Linked DNA regions of Homo sapiens. The protein of the gene in region 2 interacts with the protein of the main gene of each other region in a pairwise test. Each region holds a gene or a part of one and is shown on either strand. Other genes may lie near its edges. The genes, in order: COL26A1 and ZHX3.

Region 1 (16,009 bases), on a different chromosome or scaffold from region 2:
AAAACCAGACAGGACCACTGCCCTGGGAGAATTTGCCATCTCTGGGAAGATAACCACTCATGAATTATCAATTCGTTAGTTATGGAATTTACTCACTGTTGTCATAAGCCTCTAAGTTAGAGAGCTAGCTCTAAGAGCTTTTAACAAAGGAACCTGATATTATCCTGAAGGGCAAGTAAAGGGTCCCTGAAGATGTGATGTTTAAGCTGATCTCTAAAGTCTGGGCAGGAGTTACCTAGGCCAAAAGTCACAAAGACTGATCAGGGTGTGGCCAGAAAGGGGTCCTGATCCAGACCCCAAGAGACAGTTCTGAGATCTTGTGTGAGAAAGAATTTGGGGCAAGTCCATAGAGTAAAGTAAAAACAAATTTATTAAGAAGGTAAAGGAGGGAGGCTAAGGTGGGTGGATTGGCTAAGCTCAGGAATTCAAGACCAACCTGGGCAACATGGTGAAACCCTCGTCTCTATTAAAATATAAAAAATTAGCCAGGCGTGGTAGTGCGTGCCTGTAGTCCCAGCTACTTGGGAGGCTGAGGGATGAGAATTGCTTGAACCTGAAAGGCAGAGGTTGCAGTAGCCAAGATAGCGCCACTGCACTCCAGTCTGGGCGACAGAGAGAGACTCTGTTTCAAAAAAAAAAAAAAAAAAAAATGTAGCTGGGTGCAGTAGCTTACGCCTGTAATCCCAGCACTTTGGGAGGCTGAGGCAGGTGGATCATAAAGTCAGGAGTTCGAGACCAGCCTGGCCAATATAGTGAAACCCCATCACTACTAAAAATACAAAAATTAGCCAGCTATGGTGGCAGGCACCTGTAGTGCCAGCTACTCGGGATGCTGAGGCAGAAGGATCACTTAAACCCGGGAGGCAGAGGTTGCAGTGAGCCGAGATCGCACCACTGCACTCCTGACTGGGCAACAGAGTGAGACTCCGTCTCAAAAAGAAAAAAAAGAAAGTAAGTAAGTAAAGGAATAGAGAATGGCTACTCCATAGACAGAGCAGCCCTAAGGGCCGCTGGTTGCCCATTTTTATGATTATTTCTTGATGATATGCTAAACAAGGGGTGGATTATTCATGCCTTCCCTTTTTAGACCATAAAAGGTAACTTCCTGACATTGCCAAGGCATTTGCAAACTGTTATGGCGCTGGTGGGAGTGTAACAGTGAGGACGACCAGAGGTCACTCTCATCTCCATCTTGGTTTTGGTGGGTTTTGGCCGGCTTTTTTACTGCAACCTGTTTTATCAGCAAGGTCTTTATGATCTTGTGCTGACCTCCTATCTCGCCCTGTGACTTAGAATGCCATAACCATCTGGGTAAGTAGCCCAGTAGGCCTCAGCCTCATTTTACCCAACCTGTATTCATGATGTAGCTGCTGTGGTTCACGCACCTCTGACAAAGGCAGGGGCAACAATCTGTGCAAAGGCCCTGAGGCAGGAAGGATCTGGAGGGTGAGAGGCAGGAAGGATCTGGAGGGTGAAAGGCAGGCAATGGTGAGCAGAGCACCAAGAGAGACCAGGAGCACAGCCAGGTCTTCTCCCATCAGGCAGAGCCAGGACGGGGCTCCCTCCGAGCCCCTGATGCAGAGGCTCACCTGCCTGCTCCACTCCTGCCCTGGTAGACACACATGTTCAGAGTCCCTGTGTGAAGCGTTTCAGGGTCTAATTGTCATCAGTCGCAGAACAAAAGATGGGAAGAGGCTGGCAAATCCTGCAGCCAGCCAGGATCACATCACGGCAGAAATGGGTGCCCGGGGCAGGCCAAGACTTCTTGGAGCCCAAGCATCAGCCGTGTGGCCAAGTCAATCAAAGGAGGCCAGGAAGGGAGATAAACCCTCCCAGAAGAGCAGGAATGACAAAAATGTCAGAAGCCAGAGGCAACTGGCTGGGGCGCAGACAGCCGGAGCCAAATCAGAAGGAAACTGCTACCTTCTCTCAAAGGCTTCGTAACTACGGGGGCTGGGGAAGCCCAAGTGAGACTCCAGTGAGTGTTTGGCAGGCCTGGTCGCCTCCAGGGGCCGCACAGCCGCAGACATCCTGCAACAAACCCTGATCCAGGGACAACTCCCCGGGGAAAAGAAAAGTCTGAGCCGATCATAAAGACTCCAAGCAGGGGACATCCTCCAAGGGGCTGGGAACTGTCGGAGATTCTCGGACAAATGCCGCAGAGTCCTTGCATTTCCAGAACAAGAAAGGGGGTGGGAGATCAAATTCTTGCAAACAAAGACAGATAATATTTAGGCTGCAAACCACCACTCAGTCATGAGTGCAAACAGCTTACACACATGCAGAGCAAATGTCTGTCCCCCCACCGGTCTTGGTGTCCCCAGCCCCCAAGTCTGGAGGATCGCTTGAAGCCAGGAGTTCGAGACCAGCCTGGGTGACATAGGGAAACACTGTCTGTACAAAAAAAAATTTTTTTTGTTTTAGATGGAGTCTTGCTCTGTCGCCCAAACTGGAGTGCAACGGCATAATCTCAGCTCACTGCAACCTCTGCCTCCCCGGTTCAAGCGATTCTCCTGCTTCATGCATATAGGGAAATTTAGTATATGATAAAAGTGGCATTTCAAATTAGCAAGGAAGAATGGGTTATTCAATAAAAGTGTGAGGGCGGTTTGAGTAAAAAACTAAGTTAAATCCCTGCCTCACAGCCTATGGAGAAACAGAGCCAATACCAAGTAGCTGGGATTACAGCCATGCACCACCACACCCAGCTAATTTTTGTATTTTTAGTAGAGACAGGGTTTCAACATGTTGACCAGGCTGGTCTCGAACTCCTTACCTAAGGTGATCCACCTGCCCCAGTCTCCCAAAGTGCTGGGATTACAGGTTTGAGCCACCAGGCCCAGCCCCCCAAAAAATTTTTAAATGATAAATTAGCCAGACATGCTGGTGCACACCTGTAGTCCAAGCTACTCAGGAGGCTGAAGCACGAGGATCACCTGAGTCCGAGAGGTGGAGGCTGCAGTGACCTGTGATTGTGCCACCGCTCTCTAGCCTTGGTGACAGAGCAAGACCCTGTCTCTAAAATGTAAAAAAATTAAAATTTAAAAAAGGATAGATGGAGCCCTCATTCAAATGAACAGCAATGATCAGTCAGCCTATCTACTAAACACATTTCCTCATTTGATTCCAACCTATTTTGTTTTGTTCACTGATGAGGGACTAAAGCAATGAAGGGAAGTTGCTGGCTTAACTGTGGGTCCTTCAGAAGTAAGTCACTGCTGGTCATAGTAGCTCCTACCTGTAATTCCAGCACTTTGGGAGGCTGAGGGAGGAGAATCGCTTGAGCCCAGGAGTTCAAGACCAGCTTGGGCAACGTTGCAAGACCCAGTCTTTACAAAAAATACCAAAATGATACAGGCATGGTAGTGCATGCCTATAGTTCCACCTACTCGAGAGGCTAAGGTGGAAGGATCACTTGAGTCCAGACAGTCAAGGCTGCAGTGAGCTATGTGATCACATCACTGCATTCCAGCCTGAACAACAGAGTGAGACCCTGGCTCCAAAAAAAAAGTGAGTCACTGCAGGCTGGCTGCATGAGACAAGGCAGAAAAAGCCCTTTCCCCCCAACCTTAGGGCCTCCCCAGGTCCCTTCTGCTCTCACACTGTCTGGGACATGAAGCTCATCAGAAATCCTCAGCCGGGCACAGTGACTCATGCCTGTAATCCCAGCACTTTGGGATGCCAAGGTGGGAGGATCACTTGAGGCCAGGAGGTTGAGACTGACCTGGACAACATAGTGACACCCCCATCTCTATTTAAAAGGAAAAAAGAAAAAAGAAAAGAAGGCCAGGCACAGTGGCTCAGGCCTGTAATCCCAGCACTTTGCGAGGCCGAGGCAGGCGGATCACCTGAGGTCAGGAGTTTGAGACCAGCCTGGCAAACATGGTAAAACTCTATCTCTACTAAACATACAACAGTTAGCCAGGTGTGGTGGCAGGTACCTATAATCACAGCTACTCGGGAGACTGAGGCAGGAGAATCACTTGAAGCCAGGAGGCAGAGATTGCAGTGAGCTAAGATCACGCCACTGCACTCTAGTCTGGGTGACAGAGCCAGACTCTGCCTCAAAAAATAAATAAAGAAAATAAAATAAAGAAAATAAATCCTCAGCCTCAGTCCTCACCACAGGCATCTGAGCACCCTCCGATCCCTCCCATCTGCTCCTCAATCACATCTGGGGATGATCCTCTGCACTGACGCCCAAAGTGGCTGAGGTTCAGCTGGGAGTGCAGATAGGCCCACACCCCTCACTCTGGTCTTGAAAACCTGAGCAGGGTCCTAAGAGACAAGGAAAAACCATCAGGATTACAGCTTCTGTTTTCTCCGGCTCCCCTGCAGCAGCAAGGGTGGGCTCAGCTACAGGAGAAGGTCCGAAACGACCCCAGTGAGCAGGCTTAGGACCAGCTCTGGGAGAGCACCGGAAACCTATCAGGACATTTTGCTCATCCTACAAGACCTGCTTTGAATGGAGACTCCTCTAGGAAGTCCTCAGCATTTAGCCCCCATCCACAACAGCATCTCACAGGGTGTGCAGTCTGAAAGACACCACCCTGGCAAAAGGCACCCTAGAAAAGGATTCTGTGGCCTCATATGTTTGTTGTTTTGTTTTGGGGAGGATATTTTTGAGACTTTTTTTGAGACAGGGTCTCACTCTGTCACCCACACTGGAGTGCAGTGACTTAATCATAGCCTCCACCTCCTCGGCTCAAGTGATCCTGCCGCCTCAGCCTCCCCTCCCAGGTAGCTGGGACTATAAGCATTCAACACCACACCTGGCTAGTTTCTATTCTTTTTTTTTTTTTTTTGTAGATACAGGGTCTTGCTATATTGCCAAGGCTGGGCTCATGCTTCTGGGCTCAAGTGATCCTCCCACCTCAGCCTCCTCTCCCAAGTAGCTGGGACTACAATCACACATCACCGTGCCTGGCTAATTTTCTTTTTTTTTTTTTTTTTCTTTGAGATGGAGTCTCACTCTTTCGCCCAGGCTGGAGTGCAGTGGCGCGATCTTGGCTCACTGCAAGCACCGCCTCCCGGGTTCATGCCATTCTCCTGCCTCAGCCTCCCAAGTAGGTGGGACTACAGGCACCCGCCACCACACCCAGCCAATTTTTTTATTTTTAGTAGAGACAGGGTTTCACCGTGTTAGCCAGGATGGTCTGGATCTCCTGACCTCGTGATCTGCCCACCTCAGCCTCCCAAAGTGCTGGGATTACAAGCGTGAGCCACCGTGCCTGGCCAATTTTCTTTTTCTTTCTTTCTTTCTTCTGTAGATATGGGGTCTTGCTATGTTGCCCAGGCTGGTCTCACACTCCTGGGCTCAAGCAATCCTCCTGCCTCAGCCTCCCCTCCCAAGTAGCTGAGATTGCAAGTGTGCCCTACCACACCTGGCTAATTTTTATTTTATTTTTTTGTAGACAGGGGATTTCGCTATGTTGCCCGGGCTGGTCTCGAACTCCTGGTCTCAAGTGATCCTCATGCCTTGGCCTCCCAAAGTGCTGGGATTATAGGTGTGAGCCACTGTGCCCAGCCATGCTTCCTATGTTTGTGAAATCCATCATCTTCCCAAGCTTTGCCAAGTCCCCATCAGCACACTACACCATCTGAGAGAAGCCTTTATCCTTTCATATGGCCTCCTAGAGCACATACTAGACATTGTTCTAAGCGCTTGATTAATATTAACTTGCATAAGCCCCAGAATGACCTTATGAAGGAAACACTCTAATCATACCCATTTTATAGATGAGGTGACTGAGGCATAGAGAGGGCAGGCAACTTAGTCAGGGCCACACAGAACCTGGACTCAGACTCAGGCAGCCTGGTTCCAGATCCTACTCTTCACAGCCTTCCTCTTTTTTTTTATTTATTTAAAAAAAATTTTTTTTTAAGATGGAGTCTTACTCTGTCACCCAGGCTGGAGTGCAGTGGTGTGATCTCGGCTCACTGCAACCTCCGCTTCACAGGTCAAGCGATTCTCCTGCCTCAGCCTCCCAAGTAGCTGGAATTACAGGTGCCCGCCAACACACCTGGCTAATTCTTTGTATTTTTATTGGAGACAGGGTTTCACCATGTTGGCCAGGCCGGTCTCAAACTCCATCATGACCTCAGATGATCTGCCCGCCTTGGCCTCCCAAAGTGTTGGGATTACAGGCGTGAGCCACCGTGTCTGGCCTGTGCACTTTATTTCTATTATTATGACATTGTAATATATAATGAAATAATCCTACTACTCACCATCATGTAGAATCAATGGGAGCCCTGAGCTTGTTTTCCTGCAACTAGACGGTCCCATCTGGGGGTGATGGGAGACAATGACAGATCATCAGACATCAGATTCTCATAAAAGTGCATAACCTAGATCCCTCGCCTGTGCAGTTTACAACAGGGCTGGAGCTCCTATGAAAATCTACTGCCGCTGCTGGTCTGACAGGAGGCAGAGCTAAGGCAGTAATGCGAGCGAGGGCAGCAGCTGTAGAGATGAAGCTTCAGGCTTTTTCGCCTATCACTCACCTCCTGCTGTGCGGCCCGGTTCCTTGAACTGGTCTTGAACCGGTACTTGTCTGTGACCTCAGGGTTGGGGACTCCTGCTTTACATAGATCACTCTGGAGGTAGTTAGGGGTGGGGCAAACAAGGAGATGCAGGGGGCCAGAACGCACACCGCTCTCCTCCAGTATTTCAGAATTAACCTGGACTCAGTCCAGCTTGTTTCAGGGTAGTCTGTTACAGGACTCCGAAGAGAAGCTCTAGACCCTGGTTTCTGGGAGGCAGGTAGAGACAAGGCCAGGCTGGGAAGGCCAGGGACCCCTGACAACTCGGAGGGCAGAACAGCACGGCATGTGTATGTTTCCGTAGGATTGTCTGCAGAATTCCCGGAGCACTTTGTGCTAACATTCCCGAAAATCCTCTAACAGTTAGTTATTGTTGCTCTTTTCCCCTGCCCCAGGCTGAATTGGTCCGGGTCCAGCTCACACACTCTGGAAGTGGCAATGAAGTGTCACACGAGTTCGAGCCAAGAGAAGCCTGGAGGAGTGCTCTTATTGCCATAGGAATTGTTTCTCTGGGAATGGATTTTAAAATAACAGATGAGCTGGGGGAAGAGGGGAGTGAGATGAAGAGAGGGAAGATTCAGAAAATCCTGGAGCTTGAGGACAAGGTCTCACTGATATTAACATCAAAGCCATTCTGTGTGATTCTCAGGAAAAGTCTCCCTCCTCTATGTGCTCACACTTCAAAGGGAGAAGCGGGACCTCTAAAGCTGGAGTCTCCATGGTTCCCCTAAAAGCAGCTTCAGGAGCTGGCCTGTGCAGAGAAAGGGACCTCGCTCCAGGATCCCTCAGAACTGCAAACGTGCACTGAGGCAGAGGCACTGCCTCGGTGTCCCAAAGGAGAAAGGTCAAGGTATTTGTTCATTCATTCATGTGTTCATTCATTCACTCAACAAACTTTCCTTGAGCACCTGATCCGTGCAAGTCCAGGAGATGCTGAAATTTGGGGTTGAAAACTCCATGCAGGAAAAATAAAAGTATTTCACAAAAATGCAAGATGTTTGAACTCTGCTTTGCTGCCATTGCAAACCAAGAAAGTGCTGCAAAAAATTTGCAATGTTCTGAGAAGCAAAGCAGCAGGCTCCTTGGTGTCCCCCAGGCACTGGAGACAGCCAGGAGCTCAGGCCTGTAGCCTGTCTCTGCCTATCCGTGATCCACCAAGGGGCCAGGTCCTGCTAGCTCTGAGCACTCCCTTCTCCCCTGCTCCATCCATCAACTACCTCCTAACTGGCCTCCCTCCTTCCACTATCCTTCCTCTGCCAGCCTCTCCCCGACCAGCAAAGTTGGCACAAGCCTGACTGTGACAAAGCCCAGACTATGAAGGCAAGCTCCTCAAGGTGGCAGGAAGGAGACTTCACATCCAGACTCCAAAAGCTCAGTGCCTGTCCTCTGCCTGCCCAAGCCCATGGTCTGCTCTTGCTCTGTCACCCTGATTGGAGTGCAGTGGCACGATCATAGTTCACTGCGGCCTCAAACTCCTGGGCTCAAGCAATCCTCCCACCTCAGTCTCCTGAGTAGCTGAGACTACAGGTGTGTTCCACCACACCTGGCTAATTTTTTATTTTTGGTAGAGACGGGGTCTTGCTGTGTTGCCCAGGCTGGTCTTGAACTCCTGAGCTCAAGCAATCCTCCCACCTTGGCCTCCCAAAGTGCTGGGATTACAGGCATGAGCCACCACATCCCATTAGTCCAGCCACTCTGAACTCAGTCCCACTAACTATATGTCAGGCAATAGCTAATGACACTTCCAAGCCTTTACACAGTTGTCTGTCTGCCCAGAATGCCCCAGTCACTGCCTCAAGCTCTCCTGTTCATCCTACAAAACCCACCTCCTATGTTGACTCCTCTGAGAAGTCCTCAACATTTAGTCTCTATCCACTAGAACATTTCCCTAAGTATGTGGTCAGGAACACAATCCTAACAAAATGCTCCCCAGAAGGCCAGGTGCGGTGGCTCACACCTATAATCCCAGCACTTTGGGAGGCCAAGGCAGATGGATCACTTGACGTCAGGAGTTCAAGACCTGGCCAACGTGGAGAAACCCCAGCTCTACTAAAAATACAAAACTTAGCCTGGCATGTTGGTGGGCGCCTGTAATCCCAGCTACTTGGGAGGCTGGGGCAGGACAATCGCTTGAACCCTGGAGGCGGAGGTTGCAGTGAGCCAAGATCGCACCACTGCACTCCAGCCTGGGCAACACAGCCAGACTCCGTCTCAAAAAACAAAATGCTCCCCAGAAAAAGATTCCAAGGCTTCATATATTTGTGGAACTCCCCCGTCCTTGCAACCTTTGCAAGGCATATGAATGCAGTCCACGGTCACATTCATGAACAGAGGGTTTACTATCCTTTTTCCTAAGAACATTATTAATATTAACCCATGTAAGCCCCAGAACAACTTAATGAAGTACTGAAGTCATTCCCATTTTACAGATGAGAAAACTGAGGCACAAAGACTCCCAGGCTCCCACAAACCCTAACTCCCCTAGCTCACTTTGCACACATTTGTATCACACCAAATTCCACTCTTGCTCATGGATCTGTTTTCCCCAACCAGTCTCTGAGCTCATCAAGGACGGAGGCTGGGTCTGAAACATCTCACTGCCCCAGAGACAGGGTCTCACTCTGTCACCCAGGCTGGAGCGCAGTGGTGTAATCATAGCTCACTGCAGCTTCAACTTCCTGGGTTCAAGCGTTCTTCCCACCTTAGCCTCCCAAATACCTGGGACTACAAGTGTGCACCACCATGCCCAACTAATTTTTTAAAGTTTTTTTTTTGCAAAGACAGGGTCTGACTATATTTCCCGGGCTGGTCTCAAACTCCTGGGCTCAAGTGATCCTCCTACCTCAGCTTCCACCAGGACTACAAGTGTGCACCACCACACCCAGCTAATTTTTTAATTTTTTTTTTTTTTACAGAGACAGGGTCTGGCTATGTTGTCCCAGCTGGTCTCAAACTCCTGGGCTCAAGTGATCCTCCCACCTCGGTCTCCCAAAGTGCTGGGATTAAAGGCATGAGGCACCATAGCTAATCACAGTTGCCAATTCTTGAATGTAGGGAACCAGAGAGCAAAGGCAGGGGTCCAACACTGCAGAGGCATGCAATCCAGTCGGAGGGACAAGTCCCCATGGATGTGATCATCCACTTCCCCAGAGTCTGCTGAGCTCTTCCTCCATGCAGGCCACCAGGCACAGCCCCCTGCCTTCACGTTTGAGTCCCCAGCCTCTACCCTACCTACACGTGGGCTCAGTGAATGCAAGGTGATTAAATGCCTGACCTGGAGCGGCTCACATTTCCAAGAGGCAGTGGTGGGTGGTGGGCAGGGCTAAGCTCCAGCTCATGCACGCTTGCCCAAGGACGGCTGCTCAGAGCCACTCCTGTAGGGAGTAAATGAGGAAGGAGAAATGACTCCATCTGCAAGGAGGGAAACTGGGGAAGTGAGTTCTAGAACCAAAACCACAATCACAGATGCAGGGGCTACCCACAAATCACAGGTGCAGGGGCTACCCACAAATGAGATGAACAGAAAGCTGGGAGGTAAATCCAGAGAGACTTCCTGGAGGAAGGGTGCTTGTGGTTCTACCAAAAGAGGGGGGAGTCAAGGTAAGAGGGAGGCATTTTGAGTGAGGAGGGGACACACCAAGCACTTTGGCTTAGACGAAACCACAAGAAAGTGAATTCAGAGACAGAGAGAGTTTGAAGCAGCAGGTATAGATGAAGGAAAGGTGGGCAGGGTGCAGTGGCTCATGCCTGTAATCCCAGCACTTTGGGAGGATGAGGTGGGCAGATAACCTGAGGTCAGGAGTTCGAGACCAGCCTGGCCAACATGACAAAACCCCATCTCTTCTAAAAATACAAAAAATTAGCCAGGCATGGTGGTGCATGCCTGTAATACCAGCTAGTCGGAAGGCTGAGGCAGGAGAATCGCTTCAACCTGGGAAGCGGAGGTTGCAGTGAGCTAAGATCGTGCCACTGCACTCCAGCCTGGGCAACAGAGCCAGACTCCGTCTCAAAAAACAAAAACAAAACAAACAACAACAACAAAACAAACAGTGTGTCAGCTTGATTTTATACTTTTAAATATCTAGCCAAATGGTGAATGGTCTTCATCTTTAGTCTTGCCCCAAGCCCCAAAAAGGTTAGGGGTGGCCAGGACTTGCAGGTGCTATAAGATCAGGGAAGTCTATTCTTACCCCTGAAAGGCCATATCAACCAGCATCATTTAAAATGTCCTCTTCAGGCCAGGCGCGGTGGTTCATGCCTGTAATCCCAGCACTTTGGGAGGCTGAGGCGGGTGGATCACCTGAAGTCGGGAGTTTGAGACCAGCCTGACCAACATGGAGAAACCCATCTCTACAAAAAATACAAAATTAGCCAGGCATGATGGCACATGCCTGTAATCCCAGCTACTACGGAGGCTGAAGCAGGAGAATCGCTTGAACCTGGGAGGCGGAAGTTGCGGTGAGCCGAGATCATGCCATTGCACTCCAGCATGGGCAACAAGAGCGAAACTCCATCTCAAAAAACAAATAAATAAAATAAAATAAAATGGACTCTTCAAAATGTACCCCAAGAAGAAACTGCTGATGGGAATGCAAAATGCTGTAACCCCAGTGGAGGGAAACTTGACGCTATCTAGCAGAATTAAACATGTGTTTGCCATTTACCAACACAAGTGTCTATCAGTAGAGGACTAGCTGAATAAATACAGTCACTCACACTGTACAGAACAACAGACCCATAAAAATGGATGCAGAACTCTACTAAAAAAAAATACAAAAATATTAGCCGGGTGTGGTGGCGGGTGATTATAGTCCCAGCTACTCAGAAGGCTGAGGCAGGAGAATGGCCTGAACCCGGGAGGCAGAGCTTGCAGTGAGCCGAGATTGCGCCACTGCACTCCAGCCTGGGCGACAGAGCGAGACTCTGTCTCAAAAAAAAAAAAAAAAAAAAAAAGATGCAGATTACCTTTGCTTTATTTATTTATTTATTTAAGACTGAGTCTTGCTCTGTCACCCAGGCTGGAGTGCAGTGACGTGATCTCAGCTCACTGCAACCTCCACCTCCTGGGTTCAAGCAATTCTCCTGCCTCAGCCTCCTAAGTAGCTGGGATTACAGGCATGCGCCACCATGCCCAGCTAATTTTTGTATTCTTAGTAGAGAAGGGGTTTCACCATGTTGGCCAGGCTGGTCTCGAACTCCTGACCTCAAGCGATCCACCCACCTTGGCCTCCCAAAGTGCTGGGATGACAGGCGTGAGTCATCATGCCCCCCCATCTTTGCTTTTTGATAGAGCCATCTCCACAACACGTTATGATGGAAAAAGGCCAAGTTGAAGACAGAGTAACTAGCATATTACCTCTGTGTAAGAAAAGGAGGAGGATACAGACACAAACACACACATACTCATACACACTGTTACGCTCACACACACACATACACACACAAATTGCTTACATTTGCAAAAAGAATTTTTTTTTTTGGAAAGAGCCAGATTTTGAGTGAGTTTTTTCTACCTACAAATAGTAAATAAGGGGGAAATTATAAGTATTCTAGCAATTACGAATTTTAAAAAGAGTCAAAATTATAGTACTACTTTGAAGTAGGAGGCGGGACTTGACTCTGGAGGTTGGGGTTGACACCGGACCAAATTGAGGACTAGCTAAAACAGGTTAGGACGAAGCACATCCCCATAAGACTCACTCACCAGGGCACCATGTCAGTTACCATTTGCCAGGGCAACACCCGGAAGTTACCATGCCTTTCCATGGCAACAACCCAACAACCTAGAAGTTACCACCTTCATCCTAGAAATTCCTGCATAAACTGCCCCTTAATTTGCATATAGTTAAAAGTAAGTATAAATAGTGCCAAACTGCCTCTGAGCTGCTAGTCTGGGCACACTGCCTATGGGGTATCCCTGCTCTGCAAGGAGCAGGACCTCTGCTGCAGCTGTACACTGCCACATCAATTAAAGTTGCTGTCTGAAACCACCCACTCACCCTTGAATTCTTTCCTGGGTGAAGCCAAGAACCCTCCTGGCTAAGCCCCAATTTGGGGGCCTGCCTGTCTTGCATCCACTTTGCGATCCTTAATGAAAGAATGACATACGCAATGATCACCAACACCTCAAGCATCACGAGAGAAAAAGAGAGACAACCAGACGTTGTGATTTCCAATGGAAAAACACTACAGCACCCAAGATGTAATTCTGCCAAAATAGAAAACGAAGGAGGAGGAAGAACTAGATCCAACCAAGCTCTTGATCTAATTTCCCATTATCTGGAAATAAAGAGGACAGATGAACATGTTCACAGGCACCATGAGCATATAACCAACAAAATCCTGAAAAAGGAACAATCTAGAAGGCCAAGTTTCTTCAACAAATAAATTGCAACAAAAAGAAGGGAGACAGTGGAGGAGACTTGTAGACAGTGGTGTTCTGCTGAATATTTAACACCCAGCTTTCCAGAATAAAGCCACATCCTTCTGTTAGTCAGCTCAAGGTTGCCGTAACAGAATACCACAGACTGAATGGCTTAAGTAGCAGACATTTATTTCTCATAGCCCTGGAGGCTGGGAAGTCTAAGATCAAGGTGCTGGCAGATTCAGTTCCTGGTGAGGGTTCTCTTTCTGGTTTGCAGACAGCCACCTTCTTGCTGTGCTGTGTCCTCACATGGCAAAGAGAGAGAGCTCTGATTTCTCTTCTTCTTTTTTTTTTTTTTTTTCTTTTTTGAGACAGAGTCTCACTCTGTTGCCCAGGCTGGAGTGCAGTGGCATGATCTCAGCTCATTGTACCCTCCGCCTCCCGGGCTTAAGCGATTTTAGTGCCTCAGCCTCCCAAGTAGCTGGGACTACCGGTGTGCACCACCACGCCCGGCTAATTTTTGTATTTTTAGTAGACACGGGTTTTCACCATGTTGGCCAGACTGGTCTCAAACTCCTGACCTCAGGTGATCCACCCACCTGGGCCTCCCAAAGTGCTGAGATTACAGGCATGAGCCACCGCACCTGGCCTCTCTTCCTGTTCTTATAACATCCCTAATCAAATAATGGGGCACAGCCCTCACAACTTCATCTAAATCTAGTTACCTCCAAAGGTCCCCCCTCCAAATACCACCACATTGGAGGATAGGGCTTCAACATATGAATTTGGTGGGGACACACACATCAGTCCAGAGCATCTCCTGATATAATATGGTAGACTAGACCACCTATGAAGAATTTCTGTCTCTCCCAGCAAGCCCAAATAGAGACCATAAATCTAATCAAACCTTCCAACCTAACTTCCAAAATAGAAGAGATACAGGGGGCAGAGGATCCAATTAATTACACCACTGGGAAGCAATTAGTCAAAACTAGTACGTGGACATTGCAGATCAAGTTAACTACACCACTGGGAAGGAAATAGCTAAATCTAGTACGTGGACATCGCAGAGAACAACTGGTCTTCAACAAGTCAACAGCGTGGAGGAAAAAGTACTCTCTCAAAGGGGGAAGACTTTCCTACACTAAAAGGGAGAGAAAAGACAGAATAACCAATAAGCAGACTTATTTAGATCCTGATTTGAACAAACTAACAATTAAAAACTGCTTTTTGGCCAGGCACAGTGGCTCACACCTGTAATTCCAACACTTCGGGAGGCCAAAGCTGAAGGATTACTTGAAGCCAGGAGTTCAAGACCACCCTGGGCAACATAGCAGGACCCCACCTCTATGAAAAATTTAAAAGTTAGCCAGCCATGGTGGCCCATGCCTATGGTCCCAACTACTTAGGAGGCTGAGGTGGGAGGATTGCTTGAACCCAGGAGGTCGAGGCTGCAGTGAGCTATGATTGCACCATTACGCTCCTGCCTGGGTGACAGAGCAAGACCCTGTCTTTAAAAAAAAAAAAAAAAAAAAAAAAAAAAAAAAAAAAAAAAAAATCAGACGTTAACAAGGAGCAGTAACAATGAAATTAAAGCACTCTTTGTCAAGAAACAGCCCTGTCATCATTGCCTGTCAACTGAAGCCAAGCCCCGGTAAACACACTACTGAAGGCCAAGGCTGCAAGGACCACTGCTGTCCCCAAGCCTTCAGCTTCTGGACATCTTGGATCTCAAGGACAAGGGACACTTGTGATAGATAGCTCATGAGACACAGAAACATGTGACGCCCAAGCCAGCTCCAGCCTGTAACTCACCCAGGCAACAACCAGGTGCCTGCAATGCCCACGCTGGGCTTTCTGGGCAAAGAGACTCAGTCACACTCTGGAATATCAATGTGCCCCAAGCCTCCCCAACACCTTCTGGTATCCTTTTTAGGAATCCATTGCCCACAGATTCATCCACATCCTCCCTAAACCTAATTATATCCTCTCCCTGTTCTTATCCTGGTGGAAAGAGTTCTGGAAGATTCCACACTTGTTTGAGCCTCTTTTTGTTTGTGCTAAAATGATCCCTTCCAAGTTTCTGCAGATGTCCCCAAGTTCCAACCCACCAAATGCCAGAATGAGGTCCCCATTCGCTCCCGCTCTTCATGGTCCTCACCTCTTGCTTTTTTGCAGGCGTATTTCAGGCTGCAAACACCTTTTTTTTTTTCCTTCCCACACCTTTTAATTACAAAAGTATTACATGAATATACGCTCCTTGCAAAACATCCATTCAATCCCCGTACCGGCCAGTAGGTTCTCTTAGGGACCAAGCACAGTGGCTCATGCCTGTGATCCCAGCACTTCGGGAGGCTGAGGCAGGCAGATCATTTGAGGCCAGGAGTTTGAGACCAGCCTGGCCAACGTTACATTTTTTATTGGCCAACAATACAAAAATTAGCCAGGCGCAGTGGTGGGCACCTGTAATCCCAGCTACTTGGGAGGCTGAGGCAGGAGAATCACTTGAACTTGGGAGGCAGAGGTTGCAGTAAGCCAAGATTGCACCATTGCACTCCAGCCTGGGAGACAGAGCGAGACTCTGTCTCAAAAAAAACACAGAAACCAGAAAAACATTCAGACAAGCCACAAGCAGACAGAGGGAAAATGGGACAGTCCCCTGGCCCAGCCCTAGACTTCTTCATAACATTAACTGCTGAAATGGTTTCCTAGAAACTTTTTTCAGGCATTTATCTACCTAGATGTAGATCTGATTTTCCTTTTCATAAATGAAATCGTGCTGTATATATTATTCTGTAACTTGAAAAGCTTGTTTTTTAGACAATCCTCATATGGAACTGTGCAGAGGCCACACTAGCGTGGGTGTTTGGAGAATGCTCCTCATAGAAGCCCCGGGTAAGTATTTCCAAACAAAATGAGAGAAATAGGATTGCATACAAACTTTTCCAGAGGCACTTTTATGCTTTTCTGGGTCCCGCCCTATTCAGCCATGACTGTATATTTCTTCCCAGCATGAAACATCCCTGTCTCCTTGTTATTAAGGAATTAGCCAGAAATCATCTTGGAGTCCTCTGATTTGGTAAATATCAAGGAGAAAAA
Region 2 (16,009 bases):
TGAATTTGTCTTTTAAATTATAAAGCACAAAGAGAAAAAGTTATAAACCAAAAGTACAATAGTACTGGCTCTTATATTTACCTCTAAAGTTATCTTAACTAGTGCTCTTTTTTTTTTTTTTTTTTTTTGTGATGGAGTCTTGCTCTGCCCCACCCAGGCTGGAGTACAGTGGTGCGATCTCGGCTCACTGCAAGCTCTGCCTCCCAGGTTCAAGCGATTCTCCTGCCTCAGCCTCCCAAGTAGCTGGGATTAGCACCACCAGGCCCAGCTAAGTTTTGTATTTTTTGTAGAGATGGGTTTTCACCATGTTGGCCAGGCTGGTCTCAAACTCCTGACCTCGTGATCCACCCGCCTCGGCCTCCCAAAGTGCTGGGATTACAGGTGTGAGCCACGGCACCTGGCCTATTTTTTCTTATGGCTTCAAGTTTCTGTTCAGTATCCTTTCATTTCAGCATGAAGGACTCCCTTTAGCATTTCTGGTAGGGCATGTCTACTAATAATGATCTCCTTCAATTTTATTTGGAAATGTCTGGATTTCTCTTTCATTTTTGAAGAATAGTTTTGCCATATACAGAAATCTTGGTTTAGAGGTTTTTTTTTTTTCTTTTTTTCACGACTTTAGATATGTCATCTCACTGCCTTTGGGCTTCCAAGATTTTTGATGAGGAATCGGCTGTTAATCTTGTCAAAAATTCTGTGTGACGAGTTGCTTCTCTCTTGCTGCTTTCAAAATCCTGTCTTCAGGTTTTGACAATCCTAATATAACATGTCTTGGTGTGGATCTGAGTTCATCCTGCTTGGATTTTATTGAGCTTTTTGGATGTGTAGATTCATGTCTTTCATCAGATTTGGGAAATTTTCTATCATTATTTCTTTAAATATTCTTTCTGTCCCTTTTCTTTTTCTGCGATTCCTATATGAGTATATGAGTATGAATATACTAATGAATATAATAACTATATGAATATATGAGTACATTAGTATGCTTGATGATGTCTCACAGCTCTCTCAGGTTTTTTTTCCTAAATATTTTTTTTCTTTCTTCTCCTTTGGATAATTTCAATTATTTTCTCTTCAAATTCACTGTTCTCTTCTTTTGCATGCCCAAATCTTTGTTGAATCCCTCTAGTGGGTTTTCCATTTCAGGGATTATACTTTTTAGCTCTAGAATTTGTTTGGTTCCTTTTTATAATTTCTATCTCTTTATTGATATTCTCATTTTGTTCATGCATGGTTTTCCTGATTTCCTTTAGTTCTTCGTCCATGTTTTCCTTTAGCTCGCTGAACATACTTAAGATAGTTGATTTAATGTCTTTGGGTAATAATTCCAATGTCTGGACTTCCTCAAGGATGGTGCCTGTCAATTTTTTTTCCTGTGAATGGACCATGGTTTTCTATTTCTTTTTATGTTTTGTAATTTTTTGTTGAGAACTGGACATTATGAGTATTACATTGTGGTAACTGAGAATCTAATTCTGTCATGCCTCAGAGATTGCTGATTTTTGCTTATTGAGGGCTGGAGCCAACTATTTGTGACTTTTCCAACTATTTTTGTGAAGTGTGTATTCTTTGCAGTATGGGGTCAGTGAAGTTTCTGTTGTGATATCTCTGTGGTTAACCAGTGACCTAAGATTTCCTTAAATATCTGGCTTGCCAAAAGGAGGAATAAAGAAAAAAAAAAATAGGTACTGTCTCTTTAAATCCCCTTGTGGCTAGAAAGCTCCCTCTGCCCAAGGGCATTGAGACAATGATCAGCCTCTGCACTGGCCCCCTCAGTGATTAAATGCAGTAATCAGAAATCAAAAAACTCTTTTTTTTTTTTTTTTGCAATGGAGCCTCACTCTGTTGCCCAGGCTGGAACGCAGTGGTGTCATCTTGGCTCACTGCAACTTCTGCCTCCCAGGTTCAAGTGATTCTCCTGCCTCAGCCTCCCAAATAGCTGGGATTACAGGCACTCACCAACATGCCTGGCTAATTTTTGTATTTTTAATAGAGACAGGGTTTTACCATGTTGGCCAGGCTGGCCTCAAACTCCTGACCTCAAGTGATCCACACCTCAGCCTCCCAAAGTGCTGGGATTACAGGTGTGAGCCACCACACCTGGCCACAAAAACTTGACTTTTGGAGGACAAAGTTGTTATTGCCTACCCTGGCACCAACAGTCTGCACCAGGAACATTTTCCACAGTTGCCTGCTGCAGAGCTTGCGGATGCTGAAACAAAAAAAAACCATCAAAATTTGTAAGCCTCTCCATCAAGCTCTTCCCTGGATGTTGCAAGTGTTCAACTAGACTTCTGAGTCCCAAAACAGTTGCTTGAGACAATTACTGCCAGCTCAACTGCTTTGGTGGAGGAAAAGATTCCTGGTGCTGCTACTGCCATCTTCCATAACATCATTCTCCATGTCAGCTTTCGTAATCAACTTGTTCAAACATCCTCATCTCTCTTGAGCATGACACCCTGGCCTACTGGTATATTACAAGAAGCACAGAGCTGGGTATAATATAAGGACCAACTTACAAACTTGGACAAAGACTTGTAGGAGAGACTACCTGCTCTGCATTATAAAAAAGTTAAACTAGCCATAAAAACCTGTTGTTCTGACTCCAGGGTGTGCCATCAGCTACTTTATAAAGCAGGCTGTGAGCTGTGGGCCCCAAAGGAGGGGAGTGTTTTGTTGTTGCCGTATTGAAAACATGGCTGGAGTTGGAGGAGGCTGTAAGGGAGCCAGTGGCCCTTGTACTCCTACCCTAAGTGCTGACCAGGGCTTTGGGCTCCACCAGGTGTTTGCTCTCACTGTGGGCTTTGTGGAACTGGATTTTGCCTTAGTATGTTAATATGAGAAGAACAGGCTTTCTGCAAATGCTAAACAGATGGATGACATGGTACTCCCCGCCCCCAACCCACCAAATTATGGGCCAAAAAGGAAGTCTCTTTTTCCTTAATTCAGTAAAGAAACAATAGCATAACTATGTTTCAAACTGTTGTGTTCAAATGAATTTAAAATATTCAGAGAAAGAAAAAGAATTTTGTCCTTTTTAAGACATCCTAAGTAGAAAGCAACTGGGGTGGAGGAGCTGGGATTTGCCAGGCCAAAATAAACAAACAACAATGGTTGGCTATTGTATGGAAACAATGCAACACCATCCAGGAAATTCTGTGGGATTTCTGAGGGATAGGCCACTATGGTTGGCCCTGGGGATGAGGTACCAAACACAAGGCCCCACACTGAGGCAGCTCATGCCAAAGTCACCACGGAACCATCACATTGCCCAACACCACAAATAGTGTCTCCTGTACCCCCTCCCACATTGCCAACTCAGCTAGCAATGCTGCCATTTTGGAACCCCCAATCCCTTCAGCTTCTACAATACTCCGCCCTCCTGGCTCTCACCTGAGCTTCTGGCTGCCCTCTGATGGGGTCTCTAATGAGAACACAAATGTCAAAGGGTAAGGAGGGAAGGGAGAGGCTGGGAACTCAGTGACCAGGAACCTAGAAAATCAACACGTAATAACATGACTTGTCTGTGGCTTCAAAACTATGTCTTAAATAAAAATAATCTTCTATGATACATTTTGCTTTCGAGTACAATCCAGAGAAACTGAGGAACAAAATTCAAGCTTTTGATTCCATGTATGTCAAAGAAGGAAGGTGATTTTCCATTATACTAAACATTTCTTCTACATCAGGCATAACCAGAGAAACACAAGACTTTCATCATCAGAAAAAAGCACATTATGTATCTAAGGACAATTAAAGGCTCTCTTTCCTTTTCATCAATTTGAGCTGAATTTCAACTCATGTCCTGTTGCTGTCTCCTACCCAGTGGCTGTGGATCTGCCCGACTCAGAGGATGTTTTGACCTGTTCTCCTATTGCTAAGAAATGGCTAGAAAAGCTTGGACCCCTTTAGGGTCACCATGTTCCTTCCCCTGCGCAGGTTTTTAAAAACACATGAAACAAAAAACAGCTCTCAACCGTTTATCATATTATATTCCTATGGCTTCTGCTGCTAGTTGTCCTCTGAAGCAGCCAGGCGGTTAATGCTGCTGCCAGGCAGCCTTAGAGACAGCAGATGCCCCTGTGCAGTAAATTCAGTGCCCAACCATAAGTGCCTCCTCCCCTTACCCACACAGGATAGCCATGGCCCCTGTGGACTCCTTACCGAGCTGACGTCCAGCCTGGGGACTCGATGTGTCAAAGGGCTCTGAGCTGGCCTCAGGGACACGGGGCTCCCACGACTCACTGTTCTCAGACACCTCTGAATAGGTGTCACCCATCCCTTTGTGAACTGCTGTGAGCTCACCAGTACCAGGGCCCTGGTCCTCACTGCCTGTGTCTGCCACGGCTCTGGTCTCCTCCCCCATTTTCTCAGCAAACCACTGCTTGACCTGCTGGGAGCTCATCTGGGTCTTGTCACAGAGGTTCTGCAGGTCCTCTTCATACAGCATCTTGTGTGTCATGTAATAGTCCTGCAGGAGCTCCCGGTTGCCAGGGGCAATGACCAGTAGCCCTGGTGGGAAGTTGCCTCGCTTATAGTCTTCGTACCATTTGAGTTGGCCGTTCTTCAGTGCGTACCTGCTATCTCCAAACCAGCGCACCACCTCTGGCCGTGGCAGACCCGTCTGGGCCATGATGGAGTCATAGTCCTGGTTGCTTGGCCACTGTGTCTGGACAAAGAGCTGCCGCAGCAAGTGCCGCTGCTGGGCAGTCTTTTTGCAGCTCACTTTGCCTGGGAGCTGCTCTGCCAGTTTGTTTGACTCATCATCCTCAGGGTCACAGGCACCCAGCCCTGGAATCTCGTTCCTGCCATTGGCTTCAGTGACCCTCAGGTTCTTCAGGTTGATTTTAATGGGGCTGACTTTGCGCTCTGCCAAGATATGGCTGCTGGGCATTTCCAGAGAGCCATTTTCACCAGAGACCCTTAGCTCACTGGCCAAATCCTCTTCTCCACCCTCATCCTCAGCAGCCTCCTCTTCCTCCTGAGAGGCATTCTCCTCAGCCTTCTTGGTCTCCTCAGCATTCACTTTTTTCCGTCTCTCTGAAAACCAGCTATCAATTTCTCGTCGGGTCATTTTGGTTTCACTTCTCAGGCGGTCCAGTTCCTCATCAAGAGGAAGAGGGTTTTGTGCAAAACTGCTCTCCAGGGCTCTGAGCTGCTCAGGGGCTCTCTCCTTGTATTTGGTTGGTGTGAAGTCAGGAGTCTGGTGCCAAGATTGTCGTTTGGCAGAAGGGTGGGTTGCTAGTGTGGCTGTTGTCGGAATGCAGGTTACCTCAGGGACCTTGGACGATGGGGAGAAGGACACCTCTGGCACAGAGTCAATGATGATGGAACTGTGATCTCCAGGTATCATCGCTCTGGAGCCCTTCAAGTTCCGGCAGTGGTATCTACGATCACTGAACCATTTCCGCACCTCTCTGGTACTGAGGCCCGTCACTTTTGTGAGATGTTCAACTTCGCTCTGCCCTGGGAACTGGTTCCGACAGAAGCTCCCTTTCAGAGCTGACAGCTGTTCATGAGATTTCTTATTTTTGTAGATGCTAGCATCAAGGAAGGCTTGGGAGGTTATGCTGGGGCAGGCCGTGAGGAGCGACTGGGCCGCATTGACCACCTTCACAGCTGACGTTGTATTTGAACACACAGTGTTAATGGGTGCCACACCTGGCTGCTTGGGGACGGATGTCACCGTGAGGGGGAGAGGGGAACTTGTTGCTTGCAACCCATTGGCCATCAATGGCTGAGTGACCAGAAGTCCCCCTCCTGTACCCTCTGGCTGCCCCACAACGTGACCTGGAAGAGCGGCCTGGATGAGATGCTGGACATTGCCAGCACTGGCGACGAGTGGGGTATTTAGAACCGTAATTGTGGGCTGAGGCACAGACTGGATGACTGTATTGAACATCTTTTTCCGGGCATCCTCAATCTCCTCAGGGGACCAGCTGATCCCCTGCTTCAGCCTTTGGGCTGTGAACCAGATCTTGAGCTGTTCTTCTGGATACTTGGTCACCACAGTCAAATAGCAGAGCTCGGCTTTGGTGGGGTAGGGGAACTTGTGGAAGGAGTTCTTCAGGAAGCTGTTAGAGTCCATGGCTGCATTGTACGTTGGAATGCTGCTCAGGGGGATCATCACTTTGGGAAGGGCCTTGGCCGTGGGCAGTGGCTGGTGGACATGGTGTTGGGCATGCACTGGGGGCTGCTGCTGGAGGGAGAGGAACTGTGCTATGCCAGCTGGCAAAACTGGCACTGTTCCTATCAGGGGCCCGTTGGCGGCATGGGGGTTTTTTGCAGAGCTGGCAGATGCCTGGCTGACTGGAACTGCCCCATTGATGAAGGAATGGTCCCCCTCTCTCACCTCCATTTCTCCAGTCGACAGCTTTGGTAAGGCCTCACCCACAGGCTGGCTAGGGACATTCTCCTTGAGTGTATGAATTTTTTTGGCTTCAGCTTTGCCTTTCATTATCTTCATGATTGGAGTTTTGGTAATGATGATTTCTGCCTGTCCATCAGCCCCTTCAGCACTGGGCTCACCCGCTAGGTCAGGAGTGCTGGTGCTCTCAGGGATGCTCTGCTCCACAACCACATGATTGTCTGGCTTGGCCACGTTCCACACAAAGCTGGCTTCCCCGGAGTGACATGTGGCATTGTGCAAGGAAAGCCCCTCAGGGGTTTTTGCCAGAAAACTGCACCCACTGCATACAAAGGTTGGGTCTTTATTAAAGTCTGTGTGCTCTGAGTTCATATGTCCCACAAATTGGGTCATGTCATGGGATCTGAAATCGCAGTATTTACAGGAATATAAATAGCCATCTAAAGTGCTCCGATGCCCATTGGCCAGTGTAGAGCCATCAGTACTGCTGGGGTTCTGTGCTGCCTCACTGCTGGCAGCAGATGCTTCTGGGGGCAGATCCTGCTGGGGTCCTTCAGGCAAGGTCTCAGCGGGCTGGGCCTCCATGCTGGCATCTTGCAACACCACAGTCTTCACTGGGATCATGCATGGTGTGGTGGATTTCCTCTTGCTGGCCATGGTGACAATCACTGGGTGATCAGCAGTTGAGAGCTTGTCCCATAAGGGGCCTAACAATACAAGTTCCAGCTTCTCGATGAGGGCCAAAGAAACAGTTTCTAAATGCAGCTTTTTCAGTTGTTTGCAGAAAGCAGGTTTTCCCTATTCAATCTAAGGAAAGGGAGAAAAAAATGATTAAGTTCTCTTAAGTGCTTTCTGTATATTTCTCGGATACCCAGACACATTCCACTGCTTGCCTTCTACCATCTAGGTCTTTTCACAGTAAGTTTAATCAGCAACTTGGATATGAAGTCTAAGTTAGGAACCCCCTAATGACAAAAACTGGACCCTGAAGAATGACCTGGGGATGGTCCAATACCAACTGATAGACTTAAGCAACGTATTTTTGTTTCTTCCCCACCACCCCCTACATATCCCTGCATTAAGTAATTCAGATTAAAAAACAAAACGCCCTCTTTTTGGACCTCCAAATTAATTCTGACCATGTCAGAGTGAGAACAAAAGATCCTAGTGTAATTCTTGTTTACATTTTGGACCAACACGCGGTTTTCTTTTCATAGCCTTCCCGCATATGAGAACAAGATGACGCCTCTGTCTGTCCCAAGCCAGGCCCAGGGACCAAGTTAGCTGCAGTGTGTGAACGGAAGGGGTGGGGTGGGCGGGGGTGGCTAGGAAGACCGGCTGCTGTAAGAGCCAGGCCTCTGTAGCCTTTCCTTGCCTGCCGCACTTATTCCAGGCCACAGAAAAGCGATCACCTTACAGTTACTGGCTGTTATGTATCCCGGACCACTGTTACTGAGATGAAACCAAAGGTCAGAGGGTCAGGGAATCCACAGAACCAGTTTGTGGCCCAGCAAGCTATACATTTTCTGTGTACGACCACTCAAAGGGTGGTCTCACCTTGAGATCTGAGAACAGTTGGACTGCCTCCCCAAGTGGGTCCCTGACCCCTGAGTAGCCTAACTGGGAGGCACCTCCCAGTAGGGGCCGACTGACACCTCATACAGCTGGGTGCCCCTCTGAGATGAAGCTTCCAGAGGGAGGATCAGACAGCAACATCTGCCGTTCTGCAGTATTTGCTGTTCTGCAGCCTCCATTGGTGATACCCAGGCAAACAGGGTCTGGAGTGGACCTCCAGAAAACTCCAACAGACCTGCATCTGAGGGTCCTGACTGTTAGAAGGAAAACTAACAAACAGAAAGGACATCCACACCAAAACCCCATCTGGACGCCACCATCATCAAAGACCAAAGGTAGATAAAACCACAAAGATGGGGAGAAACCAGAGCAGAAAAGCTGAAAATTCTAAAAATCAGAGTGCCTCTTCTCCTCCAAAGGAACGCAGCTCCTCACCTGCAATGGAATAAAGCTGGATGGAGAATGGCTTTGATGAGTTGAGAGAAGAGGGCTTCAGACGATCAGTAATAACAAACTTCTCTGAGCTAAAGGAGGATGCTCGAAGCCATCACAAAGAAGCTAAAAACCTTGAAAAAAGATTAGATGAATAGCTAACTAGAATGAACAGTGTAGAGAAGACCTTAAATGACCTGATAGAGCTGAAAACCATGGCATGAGAACTACATGACGCATGCACAAGCTTCAGTAGCCGATTTGATCAAGTGGAAGAAAGAGTATCAGTGATTGAAGATCAAATTAATGAAATGAAGCGAGAAGTTTAGAGAGAAAAGAGAAAAAAGAAACGAACAAAGCCTCCAAGAAATATGGGACTATGTGAAAAGAACAAATCTACGTCTGATTGGTGTACCTGAAAATGACAGGGAGAATGGAACCAAGTTGGAAAACACTCTTCAGGATATTATCCAGGAGAACTTCCCCAACCTAGCAAGGCAGGCCAACATTAAAATTCAGAAATACAGAGAACAACATAAAGATACTCCTCGAGAAGAGCAACTCCAAAACACATTAATTGTCAGATTCACCAAAGTTGAAATGAAGGAAAAAATGTTAAGGGCAGCCAGAGAGAAAGGTCGGGTTACCCACAAAGGGAAGCCCATCAGAATAACAGCGGATCTCTCGGCAGAAACTCTACAAGCCAGAAGAGAAGTGGGGGCCGATATTCAACATTCTTAAAGAAAAGAACTTTCAATCCAGAATTTCATATCCAGCCAAACTAAGCTTCATAAGTGAAGGAGAAATAAAATCCTTTACAGACAAACAAATGCTGAGAGATTTTGTCACCACCAGGCCTGCCTTACAAGAGCTCCTGAAGGAAGCACTAAACATGGAAAGGAACAACTGGTACCAGCCACTGCAAAAAACATGCCAAATTGTAAAGACCATCAATGCTAGAAAGAAACTGCATCAACTAACGAGCAAAATAACCAGCTAACATCATAATGACAGGATCAAATTCACACATAACAATATTAACCTTAAATGTAAATGGGCTAAATGCACCAAGCAGACCTAACTGACATCTACAGAACTCTCCACCCCAAATGAACAGAATATACATTTGTCTCAGCACCACAGCACACTTACTCCAAAATTGACCACATAGTTGGAAGTAAAGCACTCCTCAGCAAATGTAAAAGAACAGAAATTATAATAAACTGTCTCTCAGACCACAGTGCAATCAAACTAGAACTCAGGATTAAGAAACTCACTCAAAACCGCTCAACTACATGGAAACTGAACATCCTGCTCCTGAATGACTACTGGGTACATAACGAAATGAAGGCACAAAGAAAGATGTTCTTTGAAACCAATGAGAACAAAGACACAACATACCAGAATCTCTGGGACACATTTAAAGCAGTGTGTAGAGGGAAATTTATAGCACTAAATGCCCACAAGAGAAAGCAGGAAATATCTAAAATTGACACCCTAACATCACAATTAAAAGAACTAGAGAAGCAAGAACAAACACATTCAAAAGCTAGCAGAAGGCAAGAAATAACTAAGATCAGAGCAGAACTGAAGGAGATAGAGACACAAAAAACCCTTCAAAAAATCAATGAATCCAGGAGCTGGTTTTTTGAAAACATCAAAATTGATAGACAGCTAGCAAGACTAATAAAGAAGAAAAGAGAGAAGAATCAAATAGACACAATAACAAACAATAAAGGGGATATCACCACCGATCCCATAGAAATACAAACTACCATTAGAGAATACTATAAATACCTCTACGCAAATAAACTAGAAAATCTAGAAGAAATGGATAAATTCCTGGACACATACACCCTCCCAAGACTAAACCAGGAAGAAGTTGAATCCCTGAATACACCAATAACAGGTTCTGAAATTAAGGCAATAATCAATAGCCTACCAACCAAAAGAAGTCCAGGACCAGACAGATCCACAGCTGAATCTACCACAGGTACAAAGAGGAGCTGGTACTATTCCTTCTGAAACTATTCCAATCCACAGAAAAAGAGGGAATCCTCCCTAATTCATTTTATGAGGCCAACATCGTCCTGATACCAAAGCCTGGCAGAGACACAACAAAAAAAGAGAATTTTAGACCAATATCCCTGATGAACATCGATGCAAAAATCCTCAATAAAATACTGGCAAATCGAATCCAGCAGCACATCAAAAAGCTTATCTACCACGACCAAGTTGGCTTCATACCTGGGATGCAAGGCTGGTTCAACATATGCAAATCAATAAATGTAATCCATCATATAAACAGAACCAAAGACAAAAACCACATGATTATCTCAATAGATGCAGAAAAGGCCTTTGACAAAATTCAACAGCCCTTCATGCTAAAAACTCTCAATAAATTAGGTATTGATGGGACGTATCTCAAAATAATAAGAGCTATTTATGACAAACCCACAGCCAATATCATACTGAATGGGCAAAAACTGGAAGCATTCCCTTTGAAAACTGGCACAAGACAGGGATGCCCTCTCTCACCACTCCTATTAACATAGTGTTGGAAGTTCTGGCCAGGGCAATCAGGCAGGAGAAAGAAATAAAGGTTATTCGATTAGGAAAAGAGCAAGTCAAATTGTCCCTGTTTGCAGATGACATGATTGTATATTTAGAAAACCCCATCGTCTCAGCCTAAAATCTCCTTAAGCTGATAAGCAACTTCAGCAAAGTCTCAGGATACAAAATCAATGTGCAAAAATCACAAGCATTCCAATACACCAATAACAGACAAACAGAGAGCCAAATCATGAGTGAACTCCCATTCACGATTGCTTCAAAGAGAATAAAATACCTAGGAATCCAACTTACAAGGGATGTGAAGGACCTCTTCAAGGAGAACTACAAACCAGTGCTCAACGAAATAAGAGGACACAAACAAATGGAAGAACATTCCATGCTCATGGATAGGAAGAATCAATATTGTGAAAATGGCCATACTGCCCAAGGTAATTTATAGATTCAATGCCATCCCCATCAAGCTACCAATGACTTTCTTCACAGAATTGGAAAAAACTACTTTAAAGGTCATATGGAACAAAAAAAGAGCCCACATTGCCAAGACTATCCTAAGTCAAAAGAACAAACTTGGAGGCATCATGCTACTTGACTTCAAACTATACTATACTACAAGGCTACAGTAACCAAAACAGCATGGTACTGGTACCAAAACAGAGATGTAGACCAATGGAACAGAACAGAGCCCTCGGAAATAATACCACACATCTACAACCATGTGATCTTTGACAAACTTGACAAAAACAAGAAATGGGGAAAGGATTCCCTATTTAATAAATGGTGCTGGGAAAACTGGCTAGCCATATGCAGAAAGCTGAAACTGGATCCCTTCCTTACACCTTATACAAAAATTAATTCGAGATGGATTAAAGACTTAAATGTTAGACCTAAAACCATAAAAACCCTAGGAGAAAACCTAGGCAATACCATTCAGGACATAGGCATGGGCAAGGACTTCATGTCTAAAACACCAAAAGCAATGGCAACAAAAGACAAAATTGACAAATGGGATCTAATTAAACTAAAGAGCTTCTGCAAAGCGAAAGAAACCACCATCAGAGTGAACAGGCAACCTACAGAATGGGAGAAAATTTTTGCAATCTACCCATCTGACAAAGGGCTAATATCCAGAATCTACAAAGCACTTAAACAAATTTACAAGAAAAACATCAAAGAACCCCATCAACAAGTGCACAAAGGATATGAACAGACACTTCTCAAAAGAAGACATTTATGCAGCCAAAAGACACATGAAAAAATGCTCATCATCACTGGCCATCAGAGAAATGCAAATCAAAATCACAATGAGATACCATCTCACACCAGTTAGAATGGCGACCATTAAAATGTCAGGAAACAACAGGTGCTGGAGAGGATGTGGAGAAATAGGAACACTTTTACACTGTTGGTGGGACTGTAAACTAGTTCAACCATTGTGGAAGACAGTGTGGCCATTCGTCAAGGATCTAGAACTAGAAATACCATTTGACCCAGCCATCCCATTACTGGGCATATACCCAAAGGATTATAAATCATGCTGCTATAAAGACACATGCACACGTATGTTTATTGCGGCACTATTCACAATAGCAAAGACTTGGAACCAACCCAAATGTCCATCAATGATAGACTGGATTAAGAAAATGTGGCACATATACACCATGGAATACTATGCAGCCATAAAAAATGATGAGTTCATGTCCTTTGTAGGGACATGGATGAAGCTAGAAACCATCATTCTGAGCAAACTATCACAAGGACAGAAAACCAAACACCACATGTTCTCACTCATAGGTGGGAACTGAACAATGAGAATACTTGGACACAGGGTGGGGAACATCACACACCACGGCCTGTCGTGGGGTGGGGAGAGGGACAGCATTAGGAGATATACCTAATGTAAATGACAAGTTAACGAGTGCAGCACACCAACATGGCACATGTATACCTATGTAACAAACCTGCATGTTGTGCACATGTACCCTAAAACTTAAAGTATAATTTAAAAAAGAATTATAAGTAATCTTCACATATGCTTTTAAGTATTTTTTTAAAAGAAAGGAAAGAAGAAAGAAGAGGAAACCAGAAACAAATAATCATTACACTATCCAGACATTACATAACATCCCTTACCTGTGAATTTAGATGTATTGAACTTTTAATAAAATAGATTGACTTCACACTTTTAAAATGCTAAGAAAGAAAACAGCTAAGGCAGAAAACTAACCTGAAAACAAAACCAATGGTTTTATATATAAAAGACCGAAATTAAACAGTTGATAACTCAAAAAGAAATAATAATAATAATTGTTTCACAGGATGCCATGAGAAAAGGGATTCTGTGAGCCCTATTACTAATATAGAATGATAATCATCATTATTACTTTTCGTTTTAGCAAATCATAATGCTCTAATGACTAAAACAATAGTAATTCTAATACTAAAATCAAGTTATCAGTATTTGGATTTGATACAAAGATGTAAAGAAAATTAAAATATCTCTATTCAAATTCTCAGTAAATAAACACGGCTATTTTATGATGAAAATAATTTTTAAAACTTTGAAGGTGAGGGTAAACATAAACCCACTCTAACAACTTCTCACCCCTTCCCCCACCAATTTGAACTGGCATGCACACTTTTTTACTTAATTTTTAATTATAAAGATAAAATGTAATTTAAATAAATTTAATGTCTATAATTTGGTATACCTTCTCATTTAGTCCAGATATTTTATTCATATTTTTATCACAATGAGCACACATTTGTGCTTTTTTCACCAAACATTACGTTATAAACCTTTTTGTTACACAAGCTTCATAAGTTTAACATTTAATAGCTACCTAATAATGTACCACAATGAATTTGACTTATCCACCCCTGCTGTTGAAAAGCATGCCAATCTCATGGGTGACAGTGAAACAAACATCTCTGGGCATACAGGATGTTTTTCTTCTATCAAATTATTTCCTGAGGTTAAGTGCACAGGAATGGGCTTACCATCTCAAAGAGCATCAACATTTCTAAGCTCCTTTGTATATATCATTGGCAAACATTTTAAATCAAGTGCTTTATGATCCCAAATCAGGGAAACTAAAAATAATACAGTTATGGACCCAGTGAGCAAATCAGATTTTCAGACAAGTTATGGAAGACATCAAGTAGAATATCTGAAAGCACAAACGACAAAAGAAAAAACAGATAAATTGGATGTCATCAAAATTAAAAACTTGCATTCTTCAAAGGTCACCATCAAGAAAGTGAAAAGATAGACAATCCACAGAAAGAAAAGGTTTGCAAATCATCTATCTGGTAAAGTATATCCAGATTATATAAATAACTTACAACTCAACCATAGAAAGATAATTTTTAAACGGGTAAAGGATTTGAATAGACACTTCTCCAAAGAAGATATACAAATGGCCAGTAAAGCACATAAAAAACTGCTCAACATCATTAGTTATTAGGAAAACACAAATCAAAACCACAATGAGATACCACTTCACACCCACCAAGATGGCTGTAATTACAGCGACAGATAACAAGTATAGATGAGGATGCAGAGAAACTGGAGCCCTCACGTATTGCTGATGAAAATGTAAAATGGTATAGCCACTTTGGAAAACTGTTTGGCAAACAAAATGTTAAATATAGAGTTGCCATAAGATCCAGCAATTTGGCCGGGCGCAGTGGCTCACACCTGTAATCCTAGCACTTTGGGAGGCCAAGGCGGGCGGATCACCAGAGGTCAGGAGTTCAAGATCAGCCTGACCAACATGGAGAAACCCCATCTCTACTAAAAATGCTAAATTAGCCAGGCATGTTGGTGCATGACTGTAATCCCAGCTACTCAGGAGGCTGAGGCAGGAGAATTGCTTGAACCTGGGAGGCGGAGGTTGCAGTGAGCCAAGATCATGCCATTGTACTCCAGCCTGGGCAACAAGAGCTAAACTGTGTCTCAAAAAAAAAAAACCAAAAACAAAACAAAACAAAAAAAACAAAACACCAGCAATTTAATTCCTAAGTATATACACAGTATAAATAAAAACATGTCCACCCCAAAATATGTACACAAATGTTCACAGCAGCATTATTCAAATAATGGCCAAAAGGTGGAAACAACCCAAACATCTATCAGCTGGTGAATGGGTAAGTAAAATATGATATATCCATACGATGAATTCTTCAGCCATGAAAAGGAATGAAGTTCTGATGCATGCTGCAACATGGATGATCCTGATGCTAAGTGAAAGAAGTCAGACACAAATGTCACATACTGTATGATTCCCATTTATATGAAATATCCAGAAAAGGCAAATCCATAGAGGCAGATAGTAGATTAGTGGTTGCCAGGGACTGAGAGTAGGGGAGAAGGGGGAGTGGCTGCTAATGAGTCACCAGGCAATGAAAATTGTTCTGAAATTAGATAGTGGGGATGGCTGCACAACTCTGAATATGATAAAAACCTCAGGAAGGACATCGAAACCAAGAAAGGTAGAGGACAGTAAATTATAGCACTCAGTTCTATAGAAGAGGGTCAGCATTTACATTTCTAAGGTTTCAATATAGGTGACACAGTTCTGTGCTACTTCCTGACTCACCTTGGTAATATTTACTGTGGCCCTAGAGAAGCTGAATGGCAGTGCCTGTGAACATCAGGTTTGCCAGAGGAGAGGGAAGAGAGATGCAGACCTACTACCTGGAAGTAGCAACAACACAAAGGAAAAAGAGCATGAGCACACCAGAAGGCCAGGCAGCAGAACTCAGGAGAAGCTAACTGCAGAGCCCTAGCAACACAACACAAGCACTCCAGGCACAGGGCCAGAACTGCTATTTGTAATGGGGACTGGGATTCACTGAGGAAAAGGTATATAGTGTTCCTGGTATTTTACTTACTAAGGCTGAGAAGTGGACAACATGAAGATGGATTTGATTTTTGGCAATAGTCCCAATGTCATTCAAAATTAAGTCTTGGCCAGGCACAGCAGCTCACGTCTGTAATCCCAGCACTTTGGGAAGCCAAGGTAGGAAGATCATTTGAGGCCAGGAGTTCGGGATTAGCCT

What was found.
Region 1: the proteins of ZHX3 (region 2) and COL26A1 interact in binary tests that used the Homo sapiens proteins (3 or more experiments, as listed by UniProt).

The regions. Positions count from the first base shown.
Region 1 is NC_000007.14:101,364,934-101,380,942, reverse strand, and holds part of COL26A1 (collagen alpha-1(XXVI) chain isoform 1 precursor), read right to left. Parts: intron 1-16,009.
Region 2 is NC_000020.11:41,197,893-41,213,901, forward strand, and holds part of ZHX3 (zinc fingers and homeoboxes protein 3), read right to left. Parts: intron 16,008-16,009; exon of another isoform or gene 15,842-16,007; intron 7,175-15,841; 5' UTR 7,025-7,174; coding exon 4,165-7,024; intron 3,493-4,164; coding exon of another isoform or gene 3,443-3,492; exon of another isoform or gene 3,394-3,442; intron 1-3,393. UniProt on the Homo sapiens protein: Acts as a transcriptional repressor. Involved in the early stages of mesenchymal stem cell (MSC) osteogenic differentiation. Is a regulator of podocyte gene expression during primary glomerula disease. Binds to promoter DNA.